Linked DNA regions of Homo sapiens. The protein of the gene in region 1 purifies or fractionates together with the protein of each later gene. This does not show direct contact. Each region holds a gene or a part of one and is shown in the gene's direction. Other genes may lie near its edges.

Region 1 (3,424 bases):
TCATTAGCCCAGATAAGAAAGCTCCAGCAGCACTGTTTTAAATGTTTAATATACAATGTTTAGTAAGCCCCATTGATTGCAGGAAGAGTTTTAAAAAGATGTGAAAGACATTCACATTGACAACATACGTATCGAGTGAACAATGTGTACTAAAATGAACAGATGAGAGGTATACATTGGGGTGTGAGTTGATAATCTAGCAGGTTGTGGGGCTAGAGAGCTTTTGGAAAAGACAATGGAAGAACATACAAACAAATTAAAAAATACCATTTTTCAAAGACTAAAACCTGTTTGGAAAGAGAGGTAGAGAAAGCAAACACATAGGATCACACTGAGTTTATATTTTCCCCTAGATTTCAGACTTTAAGTGCTCTGACCTCTATTCTGGAAAACTTCTAATTATTTACATAAGATACTGTGAGTCTATGCATCTTGTTCTCTATATGATGTTCACAGGGAAACATACAGGCATGGTTCAATACATAGATTTAAAATGAATGCTTGTAACTTTGGTTCCCTTTTCTCCATTTTCTTAATGTGGTGAATAAGAGTACAGTTTTACAAATGAAAAGCCTGTAGTACACTCCCTTGATGGTAGCAGTGGCAAATGTACTGGAGAGACTGGATCTCACTCTGGTATCTATCTTGGGACACAAGTGCCTCTTTGAGGGTTGTAGAAGACAACCCTCAAAGAGGAAAGGAATATAGGTAAAATCTGGGTTTCTGCAAGAGAAAGAGGTGGAGCAGAAAATTTCAGGCTTGAACAGGATCAACAGATGGCACAATGTGGTCAGTGCCTCCAAACCCAGAGGTAAATAAGATGCTCTTCTGTTTACAGTTCCAGGGAGGAGAGTTGACCTGGCTGTGGTCATACAGCTTAGCAAAAAAATCTGGGGCCAGAACTCAGGCCTTTGTTAGGTCTCTCCTTCCTTCTAGCACATTGGCAAATTGTACAAGGAAAGTAGAGGTGGAGATGGGTTCATGTACAAACAATATGGCATTCAGCTAAAGTGGATCAGGGCAGGAAGTTTTATGATTTAGGGAATGTGTAAGACAGGAAGCATTCATTGCCCCCAATCAAGAAAGAGAGCCCTTGACCACCAGTTAGAGAATCCCCCAAGTCCCTCTTTGCTGTCACTGAAACTGAGATCTAAGGCAGGGCCTCAGTGAGTCAGGGCACTTAATCCAGTGGAAAGATCCCAGAACAGGATATTTCCCAGTTTGAGAATCCCTGTCATGCCAGTTATGGATAGATTTGCATTTTAGTTGGGACATTGCTGGGCCAGCCCAGTTTTGGGTAGTTCCACTTCCTGCTGGGTGGGGTAGCAGGCCCTATAAAGAGGTTCTCTGCTCTACAACTCCTAAACTCCTGGTACTTGAGCACTGATCTGCTTTGGAGAACCTGGTGAGTCTGCTTCCTTGAGTTCCTCTGTTCTTTGTGCCCTGAAGTGTTGAATTTAACCTGAATCCAGCAAGTTTGGTGGATCCAAACCTGTGATCATAGGTTTGATGGTACTTAGTTGATGGAACTACAGGATTAGATTACATGATACAGTGTTTTACACAGATTTTTAAAAAATGTACAATTATATGTCCATATGGACAGAGAAGTTAATAGGAAAGTTTTGGTTTGAAGAAAGGGATGAAGTATTTTTCTCTTTTCCATATTTTCCTGGTATCCTTTTCAAAGGTTTGTGTCTTAGCAGGTGTGAGAGCCAGTACTTCTTCCTGAACAGCCCTTGCTCTGTGCCCAAGTCAACCCACTGGTGCTTTACAACAGATAATGATGATAGGAATAGCTTGTGAGATTGCCCAGGAGGTCTGAACTTGTGACTGCCTTTCCTGAAGATGTCATTTTCATGGAATAACATGCTTGCTTCTTTATTATAGAGATGTTTTCTTTGGAAAAATTGTATGAGGAAAGGCAGGAATTCCTAGGGCTGATGAAACAACTTGCTAAAGTGGAAAGGAGAAGACAGGAAGTCATGAAAAGAGAGCTAAGAGTTTAAATAAATTTTTGGAGATTGGAGAAATAATATGCCATGGTATTACATAAGCTTTGGCTTCTCTCTCTGGAGGAGTCCATTCCTGTGAACACTGTCATATCATTTCTTTCAGATTCTGAGACTCCAGCAGGATGTCTTATCAACAGCAGCAGTGCAAGCAGCCCTGCCAGCCACCTCCTGTGTGCCCCACGCCAAAGTGCCCAGAGCCATGTCCACCCCCGAAGTGCCCTGAGCCCTGCCCACCACCAAAGTGTCCACAGCCCTGCCCACCTCAGCAGTGCCAGCAAAAATGTCCTCCTGTGACACCTTCCCCACCCTGCCAGCCAAAGTGTCCACCCAAGAGCAAGTAACAGCTTCAGAATTCATCAGGAGCATGAAAGGATAAGGATAATTGGCTCACCTTGTTCCACAGCTTCACCTGCATCTTCTCATCAAAGCCTACCATGGATACACAGTTAGCTTCTTTCCTCTTAGCCAGTGATCTGCCCATGATGATCCCTGATAGCAAAAGGTTTCCTTTCTGAGGCTGCCATATTGCCACTGTCCAGGTGGAGACTGAGAAAGGAAGTCCTCAGCAGTGTCAGTTCCCAGAGCTTTGGAAGAAGGACCAGCAGCTCTGTCCCTGGGAACCATCAAAAAATGCTGTTGATGTTTTCTGTGTCTGTCTGTCACCTGGGCATGGGCTTCTAACACCTGTGCAATTGTCACTTTTCTTTCACTCCCTGAATAAAATATCTTTGCATACGTATTTGTGAATGGATCTTTTGTTTCTTTTCAAATCTGCTTTATTAGTAAAATTATATAATCATTTGGGTTTATTTCCACCTTTCTTTCAACCACAGTCAGAATCTTAAAATTTGGGTCATATCAAAGATTATGTCTGTATTATTTAAACCACTTTTATTTTCCTTAATTAGTGTTTGATTGATTTGAGGAACATATTATTCAACTTCTGTGAATGTCAATCTCTTTATTGCAAAGCGACCAAAATAACATTTACTTAACAAACTAGTCTTGGGATAAATCTAATTACTATCTGAAATTTTGTTGTCGCAATGCCTGACACATAATTAGCTGTCATTTTAGAAGTTTATTGGCAGTAACATATCATCATTGTTTCCACCATTACCACCACCACCACCATCATCATCATCATCATCATCACTCCCCATGACAACCACTACCATATTTGTTCCAGCAATAGAGTGGCTTGGATGTAACTAATATAAAAAATAAGAAGACTCTGTTTTTTTTTAAATTTTATTATTATTATACTTTAAGTTTTAGGGTACGTGTGCACAATATGCAGGGTTGTTACATATGTATACATGTGCCATATTGGTATGCTGCACCCATTAACTCGTCATTTAGCATTAGGTATAACTCCTAATGCTATCGAAGACTCTGTTTTTATTGGT
Region 2 (3,079 bases), on another chromosome or scaffold:
TCCTCAGTCTGGTATACAACCCCAGCCTAGCTTCCTTCCTGGGGCTCTAAATTTCCCATGAGGGTGGGGGAAGACTGAGCCCCAGAGGGCAGGCTGAGCCTCCAAGCTCCATCCTGTTCCTCTCTTCCCTTACTCCCCAGATGGGTGGTTTGAATGGCCCAGGGTACCACTACCAGTACCAGTCTCTGTATGTACTAGAAAAAGGCACCCCTGCCTGCCCCTAGGCGGAGAGAGCCTAATGCTAATCCCAGGGAGTCCACATTGAGATCCTACTGACTCCTTCAGCTAGGGACCCTTGTTCAGGGTACAACCTGAATTGGGGTCAAGGGAGGGAGGGGGAGTCAGCAGAGCTGTAGAATGACCCCAATCCTTCCCCAGCTGTATGAGCTCGATGCAGACCCCAAGAGGAAGGAATTTCTGGATGACCTGTTTAGCTTCATGCAAAAGAGGGGTGAGTGGCATGATGTGGGGGAAGGGCCCTGGAATTGCCCCCTTACCAGGTTTGAGGAAACCCGGTTGGGTTCTCCCTGCTGAGGCCTGAGCTTGGCAGCACCTGTCCTTTGGGCCCTCGATAGCGTCTTTAACCTCTGACCCTGTCCCCCTCCTCCACCCCAGGATTAATTAGTGGCCAGCCCACTGGCAGGTTAATGAGTTTGGGATCAATTGGGAGGGTGGGAGGGGGAACTGATGGGAGCCTGGCCTGGGGTGGGAGGGTCCCAGAATCAGAGGGCTGAGAATGCCTTGGTTCTGTGTCCAGGGTCCTTCCTCCAGCCATGTCTTCCCTGTTTTCCCTTGATTCAGGCAGGGGACACCTCACGTGCTCTACAGCAGGAAGGACTAGGAATAGACTGAAGGAAGGACTTCCCAAGGGGTGGGCTGGGGACTATGTGAGTTGAGGCTGTGGAGGAGGAGAAATTCCTTTCCAGGAATGTCAGAGCTGGAGGAGAACGCAAGAAGGGTCCAGGAGGGCATCAGGGTGGGCGGCAGTCCATCACTTCAGCTTTTTCCCAGATTCATGGGACCGAACACTGACTCATTATCTCTCTCTGCAAAGCTAATTAACTCACTCAGAGCGCAGCCTGATAAGCCGCTAATTAACTGGCTGCCCTGTTACCCCCCGCCCCCCCACCGCCTTTAGTGCAGCTGCTGGCCCACTTCCCACTCCCGGCCCTCACCCCAGCACCTCTTTCTGGTCCCTTACCTTCCCAGGGACCCTCAGTAGGGACCTAAGTCCTTTTGGTTCCCAGGGAGGCCCATTCTGGTTCCAGTGTTCCCTCTCTGGCCCTTCCTCGAGGCCTCCCCTCCACTGGGGTAGCGGGTGTGAACCGATCCCAGCATTGCCTGCCTCCCTTCGGTCCCTGCCTCCCACCGCTCCAGCTGCAGGGGGAGGGGGTCCCGCGGGGCCGATAATTTTCCCCCATTAATCAGGCCGCAGCTAATTGTTCGGGTCCAAAGGCGCGGCGGAAGGGGACGGGATCGGTAAGGAATTAACTGGGGCCCATCGCTCAGCGCAGACAGGCCCCTTTGTCAGGACTGGCCGGCGGGGGCGGCGCGGGCTGCGGAGTCGGCGGGCCGAGGCGGGAGTTGATTCTTTTCCCGCCCGTCATCCCCCAGCCTTGGGCAGCCACCCGGGGGCTGCTGCTTAGGGGAGGCCGGCTCTTCAGCACTGTCCGAAAGTCCTTCCTGCGGTCTACCCCAGGGGACAGCAAACTAAAGTTTGCAGGCCAAACCCAGCTGCCTGCAAGATAAGAATGGTTTTTACTTGTTTAAATAGTTGGGGGACAAAATTTAAAGATGAATAACATCTCCAGACTGGTGAAATTCGAATTTCAGAGTCTATATTATTGGAACACAGCCGCATCCATTCCTTCAGGTATTCTCTATGGCCGCCTTTAGGCTACAATGACAGCGTTGAGTAGTTGTGACAGAGACCATTTAGCCATCTGGCCTTTTACAGAACTTTGCCCCCCCCCGTTCTAGCCTCCTGTCCTTCTTGCTAAAACAGAGACCCTGGGGTTCTGTGGGCTCCGCCCAAGTCTCCCTCTTTCCCGCCCTCCCCGGGGCTCCCGTCCTGTATCAGTCCCTGGGGATGCTGCAGACAGGGTCTTCGTCTCAGTGTCCTGACGGCAGCCCGCTCCCCACCAGGGACGCCAGTGAACCGCGTGCCCATCATGGCGAAGCAGGTGCTCGACCTGTACGCTCTGTTTCGCCTGGTGACCGCCAAGGGCGGCCTGGTGGAAGTCATCAACCGCAAAGTGTGGCGGGAAGTCACGCGCGGCCTCAGCCTACCCACCACCATCACCTCGGCCGCCTTCACTCTACGCACCCAGTGAGGCCAGGGGCGGGAGCGGAAGGGAAGGGGGCACGGGTTCGGCCTGGGGCGGGAGGGGGGAGGGTCCCCGGGCGGGCGTCCGGCTGTGGGACTTGACCAGCTGGGTGCAGCCTCCCATACACTCACCGCCCGCTGTCCGCCCCTAGGTACATGAAGTACCTGTACCCGTACGAGTGCGAGACTCGAGCGCTCAGCTCCCCAGGGGAGCTCCAGGCCGCCATAGACAGCAATCGGCGCGAGGGCCGTCGCCAGGCTTACACCGCTACTCCGCTCTTCGGCTTGGCAGGGCCGCCCCCTCGGGGCGCTCAGGACCCAGCCTTGGGTCCCGGCCCCGCCCCTCCGGCGACCCAGTCCAGCCCTGGCCCAGCCCAGGGTTCCACCTCCGGCCTGCCAGCGCATGCATGCGCTCAGCTGAGTCCAAGCCCTATTAAGAAAGGTGCGAGGGGAGAATGGTAGAGGTTTCGGGGTCTCTGAGGTTTAGGTGGGCGCTAAGATATAGCAACCATTAAAATGTGAGGATTGAGGTCTGGGGAGGCATTGAGGTATGGGAGCAGTAAGGTCTGACGGGCTTCTGAGGTTTGGGGGTCACTAAGGTTTAGGGGTCCTGAGGTTTGCGGCCAAATGAGAGCTCTGGGGTACGGGTTACTGAAGTGTAGGGGCTGAAGTTCAGGAAAAGGTCCTTTTTTTTCTTTTTTTCTTTTTTTTTTTTTTTTGTGAGACGGAGTCTCGTTCCGTCGCCCAGGCTGG

Evidence for each region.
Region 2: the proteins of SPRR2E (region 1) and ARID3C purify together in Homo sapiens (affinity purification with mass spectrometry; one large-scale study listed by BioGRID and IntAct). This does not show direct contact.

The regions. Positions count from the first base shown.
Region 1 is NC_000001.11:153,092,465-153,095,888, reverse strand, and holds SPRR2E (small proline-rich protein 2E), read left to right. Parts: upstream 1-1,362; 5' UTR 1,363-1,405; intron 1,406-2,118; 5' UTR 2,119-2,137; coding exon 2,138-2,356; 3' UTR 2,357-2,754; downstream 2,755-3,424. UniProt on the Homo sapiens protein: Cross-linked envelope protein of keratinocytes. It is a keratinocyte protein that first appears in the cell cytosol, but ultimately becomes cross-linked to membrane proteins by transglutaminase.
Region 2 is NC_000009.12:34,623,114-34,626,192, reverse strand, and holds part of ARID3C (AT-rich interactive domain-containing protein 3C), read left to right. Parts: intron 1-378; coding exon 379-451; intron 452-2,145; coding exon 2,146-2,329; intron 2,330-2,478; coding exon 2,479-2,768; intron 2,769-3,079. UniProt on the Homo sapiens protein: Transcription factor involved in monocyte-to-macrophage differentiation.